Linked DNA regions of Homo sapiens. The protein of the gene in region 1 interacts with the protein of each later gene in a biochemical or structural test. Each region holds a gene or a part of one and is shown on either strand. Other genes may lie near its edges.

What was found.
Region 2: the proteins of IGFBP7 (region 1) and ISLR2 interact in a biophysical measurement, tested with the Homo sapiens proteins (one large-scale study listed by IntAct).

What each region holds. Positions count from the first base shown.
Region 1 is NC_000004.12:57,037,386-57,040,885, reverse strand, and holds part of IGFBP7 (insulin-like growth factor-binding protein 7 isoform 1 precursor), read left to right. Parts: coding exon 1-62; intron 63-3,500. UniProt on the Homo sapiens protein: Binds IGF1 and IGF2 with a relatively low affinity. Stimulates prostacyclin (PGI2) production. Stimulates cell adhesion. Acts as a ligand for CD93 to play a role in angiogenesis.
Region 2 is NC_000015.10:74,129,437-74,133,385, reverse strand, and holds the start of ISLR2 (immunoglobulin superfamily containing leucine-rich repeat protein 2 precursor), read right to left. Parts: upstream 2,801-3,949; 5' UTR 2,765-2,800; exon of another isoform or gene 2,612-2,764; intron 2,571-2,611; exon of another isoform or gene 2,289-2,570; intron 2,180-2,288; 5' UTR 2,070-2,179; intron 640-2,069; 5' UTR 632-639; coding exon 1-631. UniProt on the Homo sapiens protein: Required for axon extension during neural development.

The DNA.
Region 1 (3,500 bases):
CCCAGGTGTACTTGAGCTGTGAGGTCATCGGAATCCCGACACCTGTCCTCATCTGGAACAAGGTCTGTGGCACAGACTTTAAGAGACATCCTAGGCTGACAAGCTTCTCTTGCACTGCACAAGGATGGTAAAACGTTAAATCCTCAGCCTGCTTTGTTGACTGCGGCTCCCGCAAGGTGAAGCCTTAGGGCAGTCATACAGGCCCCTCCCCTGGATTCATGGAACAAAAACCAGTCCCTGCCATGCTTTTGTTAGCAGCATCCTAGAATCTGAGAAACTGGAAGAACAATAATGCTGAACACCTGAACCCACCTTCAGGGTGTGTGTGCACCTGTGGTGTGTGTATGTGTGTGCATATGTGGGTGCGAGTGAAAGTGTGTGTGTCTGTGTTTGCGCCCTCAGTGGAGACAGTATAGCATAGGGGTTAAAAGCGTACGTTTCTCTCTTTCTGTCCCAAAATACCACCTCCAAGCCCCCACCAAGCTGTTTGTGATGGCATCAGTCTCCTCATTTAAGACTGAACATTTAGCTGATAATTTAGATCCTGTCTGCTTGGAGGCATTATTATTATTTTACTGGGAGGCTCGGCTAAGAAGGTAAAAGGACACAAAGCCCTGTAGCCTTCTCCTGGGAGCATGGATTATTTTTTCAGATTCCCTAAGTGCTGGGAGATGGATGAGTACATTTTAAGGGCACTTGGAAGTAGGATAGAAGGAATGAGGTGGGATCTATTCTCCTAAGTACCAAGGCTGTAGAACCATAAGTTAGGGACAGAGGAGACCACTCCAGAACAGAGCATTAAAAAGGAACAAGAGGAGGAATAGCAAAGAAAAAAATGTCTCCTTTCTGAATTTTGCTAAATGCTGGCCCCAGCCCCAAGTGGAAAAAGCATGATATTCTTTTAATAAATCAGCTTTGAAATGACTTCCCAAATGGAAAAAAAGAAAAAAAAAAGTGTGAGGCTGGGTGCAGTAGCACATGCCTGTAATCCCAGCACTTTGGGAGGCTGAGGCAGGAGGATCACTTGAGTCCTGGAGTTTGAGACCAGCCTGACCAACACAGTGAGACTTCCTTCTTACAAATAATTTTTTTAATTAGCTGGGCATGGTGAGGCATGCCTGTGGCCCCAGCTACTCAGGAGACTAAGGTGGAAGAACCCCTTGAGCCAGGAGATTGAGGCTGCAGTGAGCTGTGATTGCCCCACTGCACTCTAGCCTGTCTCAAAAAAAAAAAAAAAAAAAAGAGTGTGAATTCCTTAGCCAGGGTGGCTGAGTTCTCTGCAAGTCAGGGTTTCTCAGCCTCAGCACTATTGACATTTGGGGCCAGATAATTATTTGTTGTGCGGGCTGCCTGTGCTTTGGAAGATGTTTAGCAGTATCCCCAGCCTCTACCCACTATATAACAGTAGCATTCCCCCATCCCCCCTGTCGTGAGAATTAAAAGCATCTTCAGACATTGCCAAATGTCCCCTAAGGGTGTGGAGCTGGGGAATTGCCCTGGACTGAAAACCACTGCTGTTAGCCTCAACTCTGTTCTCTACCTTATAAAAGTAGCATGTAATTATCATAAAGATGAAATAAAGTAATGCAAGTAAAAATTACTTGATACATAGTTAGCACTCAGTAGACATTAGCTACTGTTCCTGGAAATTTTTCCCTTCAAGTGGCATTATCTTGTATAATTATCTTCATATTTGAAGGACAACATCATCTCAGCATGTATGGAGAAGGGAAAAGAAAACACTTATTTGCCATCAACTAACACCTCACAATTATACCATACACTTACGTTTTTGTCTTTTTTTTTTTTTTTTTTTTTTTGAGACATAGTTTCACTCTTATTGCCCAGGCTGGAGTGCAATGGCACCATCTCGGCTCACCGCAACCTCGCCTCCCGGGTTCAAGTGATTCTTCTGCCTCAGTCTCTCAAGTAGTTGGGATTACAGGCACCCGCCACCACGCCTGGCTAACTTTGTATTTTCAGTAGAGACAGGGTTTCTCCATGTTGGTCAGGCTGGTCTCGAACTCCCGACCTCAGGTGATACGCCCACCTTGCCCTCCCAAAGTGCTAGGATTACAGGTGTGAGCCACCGCGCCTGGTCGTTTTTGTCCTTTTTATACATTTTGAATTGCTGAGCCTCACAACTATCCTACGAAAAATAAAAATTAAAAAATTATCAAACTCATGCTACCAAAAAAGGAACTTAGTTTAAGTAAAAGGGCATAACCAGACATCCATTTTAAGCTGCCTTACTTCTCCAGCAAGCTCTAAGGTGGATGATAGTCTCCCTTGACTATTTTGTTTGCTCTCTGTGTGACCGGAGAAGCAACTTCTAGAACTCCAGGAGGACTGTGGCTCCCGCAGTCGGAGCTCTTTCTGTTGCAAGTTCTACCAGCCCATTTGAAACCAGCCTAGGCAAAACAAAAAGCGGGGCGGGATCCAGCCTCAAGGGCCCCTGCATCCAGGTACACACGCCATCAGAACTCTAACTCTTGACTCTTTGCTCTCAATATACTAGTCTCATTTTCTTCTGCTTCAGAAAGCTTCCTATGCAGTGGGAGATATCAACTCCACTCACATTTTTATTACAGCTTAAAGACCCCAGAGGAAAGAAAGGGCTTCCCTTCTCCCTGCTGCATTGTGAAAATCCCACGAAGGGCTCAAGCCCAGGTCGGGTCACCTGCTAAGCTCTGGCTCCCCCATGCGGCCGGAGGGATGCGGCCACTGACATTGGCACCGGCGTGAATCCGCCTGGTTTGTGTAAAATCTGGGAACAGGTACCAGAAAATGCCTGAGGTGGGGGTGATGGCAGAGGCAACACTACTATACCATCCTTTACAGTGAAGCTTCTCTTAAAGGAGCAATAAAATTTCACCCCGATCAGTTATGTTTTTAAGAGGAAGGCGGAGCAAGAGTAAGAGCAGAAATGCAGTCCGTGGATGGGTTCCCCTCCATCCTTACTGCAAGAACTGCAGGCGTTCCTCACTGCTAATTTGGAGATTGCTGGTTTGCTCAGGGTGTGGGGAGGTGGAGAAATAATGTTCCGAGGAATACCCATGAAAAGCTCCGTTGCAGTTCTCTACAGTTTTCTAGGGATACTTACACAATGAGAAGCGAGGGTCACCCAAGCGTCCTGGGGCATGTGACCTTATTGGCAAATCTTGGCAAAGAATAATTTCTTCAGTCCTTGCTCTACCCAATCCCAGCTACAGTATTCACATACCAGAGGAATACGTCTGCCTCGGGAATCTTTTCCCTTTTAGGACTGTACAGGGCAGATCCCAATAGACAAGGCCTCCCTGAGTGCTTGTCCTCAGGGCTAGTCAGAAACACCAAGGCAGTTGAGGCTGGTGTGGTGGCTCGCACCTGTAGTCCCTAGCCACTCGGGAGGCTGAGGTGGGAGGATCGCTTGAGCTCAAAAGGTGGGGCTGCAGTGAGCTATGATGGCACCACTGCACTCCAGCCTGGGCAACAGAGCAAGATCCTGTCTCTGAAAAAAA
Region 2 (3,949 bases), on another chromosome or scaffold:
AAGCAATGGAGTCGGGCTCGGGTAAGGACACCCGGGTGCTCGCGGCCCAGGCCTGCAGCCACACAAGGCCGCAGCCGCAGTGGAAGGGATTGTGATAGAGTTGCAAGTGTGACAGCGCGCTAAGCGCGTCGAAGGTGCCAGGCGCCAGCGTACGCAGCCGGTTGTTGTTGATGCGCAGGGAACGCAGGTCGGGTAGCGCACCGAGTGCGTCCCGGGGCAGAGAGCCCAGGCGGTTGTGGTTCATTTTGAGCAGCTGCAGCGCGCTCAGGTTGCGCAGGTCGCTCCACGGAAAGCTGGATATGAAGTTGTGGCTCAGATCGAGGTTCTTGAGCTGACTCAGCACGGCCAGTGCGCCTGGCTCCACGGTGCGCACCTCATTGTGCGCCAGCCACAGCGACGTGACCTGTGTGACGTCGGCGAAGGCCCCGCGCCGCAGCACAGTGATCTTGTTCGCGGACAGACTAAGCGTCGTCACGTTGGCAGGCAGTCCTTCCGGCACCTCACGCAACTCTTTGTAAGCGCAGTCCGCGAACTGGTGAGCGTACTTGTCCACGCAGGCGCACGGCTCCGGGCATGATCCGGCCACTCCTAGAAGCGCCCAGACCAACCACAGGGCCCGAAGGGGGAACATCGCGGCTCCTGCAGATGGAAGCCAGGTGAAGAAGAAAGAAGGTGACTCACTGAACCCCAGCTTACCTCCCCTATCAAGCTGTGCCTCCGCAAGCCCGTTTAGCACTAGTTCCAGGGCTCCGGTAACCTCCTCTATGGCCAGGAGCCTCTCTGAAGTGAAGGTCAATAAAAATCTCGAGGTTCAACGGATGCTCCCTCCCAGGGCCCTAATTTCCTTTTCCAGCGGCCCGGTATATCGCCCTTTTTTCTCTTCCTACTCCTTCCTTCACGCTGGAGCTGGCCCCTCCGTGGGCTCCGCAGCTCGCCCATCTCCAGCGGGCTCCTCACGTACCCCTCTCTGTGTTTCTAAGCCTTCGTTTAACCTGGTGAAATGGATCCTACCCAAGAAGGACATTTTTGTCCGTGACTGGCTGTCCTCCCTGGAACCTTTGTCCCACGCACAGCACTCGCACACACGCCCATGCAGGCACACAACAATACAAACAGACGCGGGGCTTCATAATCAAACCGCCAACTTCTGCAGGGGTTTAGAGGACCTGATGCTCAATTAGGAGGCTCACAACACATTTCCTAAACTCACAAACACATATGCACCCAGACATGGACACAATAGACCCTGCAGACCTCATTGTTCTCTTAACCAGCATTTGTACGTGTTTTCCACCACGGTACAAAGCGCTTTCCTGTCCATTGTGACAATTGACAGACACAAGGACACAAGTCCTCACACGAACCGACCCACCCACAAGAACACAGGCATGTGCCTGTGTGTGCATACAGCCCTCCACTGTGACCGAAACCCAGCAGAGAAGCAATAGGAGGACCTGCACTGCACGACTTGAGATGTGGGATCTGGGGAAGCCCATCCCCATGCCCTACTGCATCTAAGGCCAAAGTCACCTGCCCGGGGCTGCAGCTCCTGTGAGGGGAGAAGAAGGGCTGCTCTGCCAACCTTCCTTACGGGGAAGGAGGTTCTCCCCCATGTTTGGACCAGGTGTGTTGGGAAAGCGGTCACTAGAGCTTCCTCTCAGGTCCCTCAGGCGGCTCCCATTGGGCAGAGGCGTCCTCAGCCAACAGGTCATGGGGCTGCCACTAGCTAATGAAGCTGGAGAAGATGAAAGATTCTGCGCCTTTCTCCACAGCTCTGCGGTGCCTAAGGACCCCCTCCCCATAACACCTTAAGCCCGGTCACACAAACGAACTTGCACAGACTCCCTGCCCCCATTTGGAGCGCCTGTCAGGTTTGGCAGAGCCCCTCCCACAACTTGTCTTTGGGAACCTGCTCCTTCACTCTGCCTTTGCTCTTCTGGGAGGGTCCCTTCCCTCCCTTCCCGGTTCCTGCCAGACAGCACCCCCACCAGCCCCGCACCCCATCAGGTGCCCTAGGCTGGACCTAACCCCACCTGGGTCAAGGTTGTGGGGTGGCCCCCATTGCTTACCCAATATTCGCCGACTCTCAGTAAATGTCCTGGGGCTGAAACCCCTTCTCCAGACCCGGCGTGGCAGAGCAGGGAAGATAGCCCAAGCAAGATACACGCATGTGTTGTGGCTGTGGGGAAAACGGGGGGCGGGGGGCAAAGAAAGGGACAGGTAAGTTTGGGGACTTGGTGGCCCCAAAGTACCACTTCAATTTTTCCTTTTGCGTCCGTTTCCCCCACCTCTCTGGCTGCAGGTTGGAGAAAGTCCTTGCGCACTCCCGGGCCTGGCGGGGACGCGCATAGCCTCTCCCGCCTCCTGCTTGGTCTACTTTTGTTAAAGCCACGGAGACCCTCCCCAAGGCCAAGACACGTCGGTCATAAGGGGCATCCCACGCCCACTGTCCTGGCTGGGCTCTTCGCAGCCTACTGCACCCCCATAACCCACGTACCCCCACATTTACACAGCCGCTGGCATTGTTACTGTCCCTGATCACACCACCTCCCCCACCCCACGTTCAAACACATTCGCGCACACAGTCCCTCACACCCTCCCCATAGCCGACCTTCACAGTTTACAATCATCCATGGTCAGGTAATAATCGCATCAATGTGTTCAGCCCCTGCTACATTCACACGCATTTTCACGGGCACACCTGCACCCGGGACACTTACCGTTCTCCTCTCGCACACGCATACACACATTCACGCGAACTCACCCTCACGCGCCTGTCCCGCCAGCGCCCGCGAGCTTCGCTGCTAATTGAATGCAAGCCGCTTTTACGCCCTGCAACACGTGAGACAAACCATCTTTGAGGAATTTGGGGGAAGGAAAGGCGCGCGGCTGAAGTGGGGGGGGAAGGCGTGTCTTTGCCTTTAAACTCTTTTTGCAAATGCAGGCGGTGGCACCGACAGACTTCGAGCGGGACCCGCTGAGCTGCGCGCAGCCGAGCTCGCGCGGACCCTTCCCTCCCGCACCCCCCGCTGCTAGCCGCCTCCTCCCCGAAGCCACGTTCAACATGATGCATAATTGATAGTGTTAGCAGAGCGCCGCACCCTCCCTACCATTTTTGCCTGGATCTGGGCTGATATAAGCCCTAGTCTCCCCCGCCCCGCCGCCCCAACCCCCCCGCCCCGCCTGCTAGTCTAACCCGACACCAGAACGCACAGCCCTGCAGGGCGTGCTGGGAAGGGACACCCCCCTCCCCAGCCCACCGCAGCCCTGCCCAGCCTCTTAAGCCGGAACTCTTTACTTCTGGTCTTTTGTGGCTAAACCAGCGCTTGAAGCCCACTGCCCGACGCGTTGGCCTGCGCGCACCGCGGGACAGGTGGAGCAGGGGGAAGCTCTCTCGAGCGCACCCAAGCACCTCACTCCAGGTCTTGCCTGCTCCAGGAGAACGGGGCACGGAAGCTGCAGCAGACAGTAGCACAGACAAGGATGGTGGCAAAACGTCCGCTACTCTTGAGCACGGTGGGCTGGGGACTTCAGGCCCGAGCATTTCTCCCATATCTGCCCCCCATATCTTCACAGCCTCTCAAGCAGACACACGGTCAACCCCACACGCACTATCCCCCAAGCCGCGGTGGCCCCTCACCGCCCCGCCGTCTCACACCCTCACACAACAGCCGGCTTCGGCAGACTCGCTGTTCCCGACTGTCGCTCCCTAGCTCTGATGAAACCCCGACATTTCTTTCAGCGACGAGGAGGCGGAGGCGCGGCGATGTCGAGGCATTTGGCTAAAACCCGGTTTCCGCCCCCCTGCGCTGCCCACGTTAGCCCTGGAGACAGCTACCGGCCATAACCAGGAAAGGGGTTCAGGCTCCGGGAGACACGCAGAATCCCCACCCATTCTGTAGCCACTGAGCTCTCTGGGAGCACCAAGCCCCACAGCCATCACCCCGGG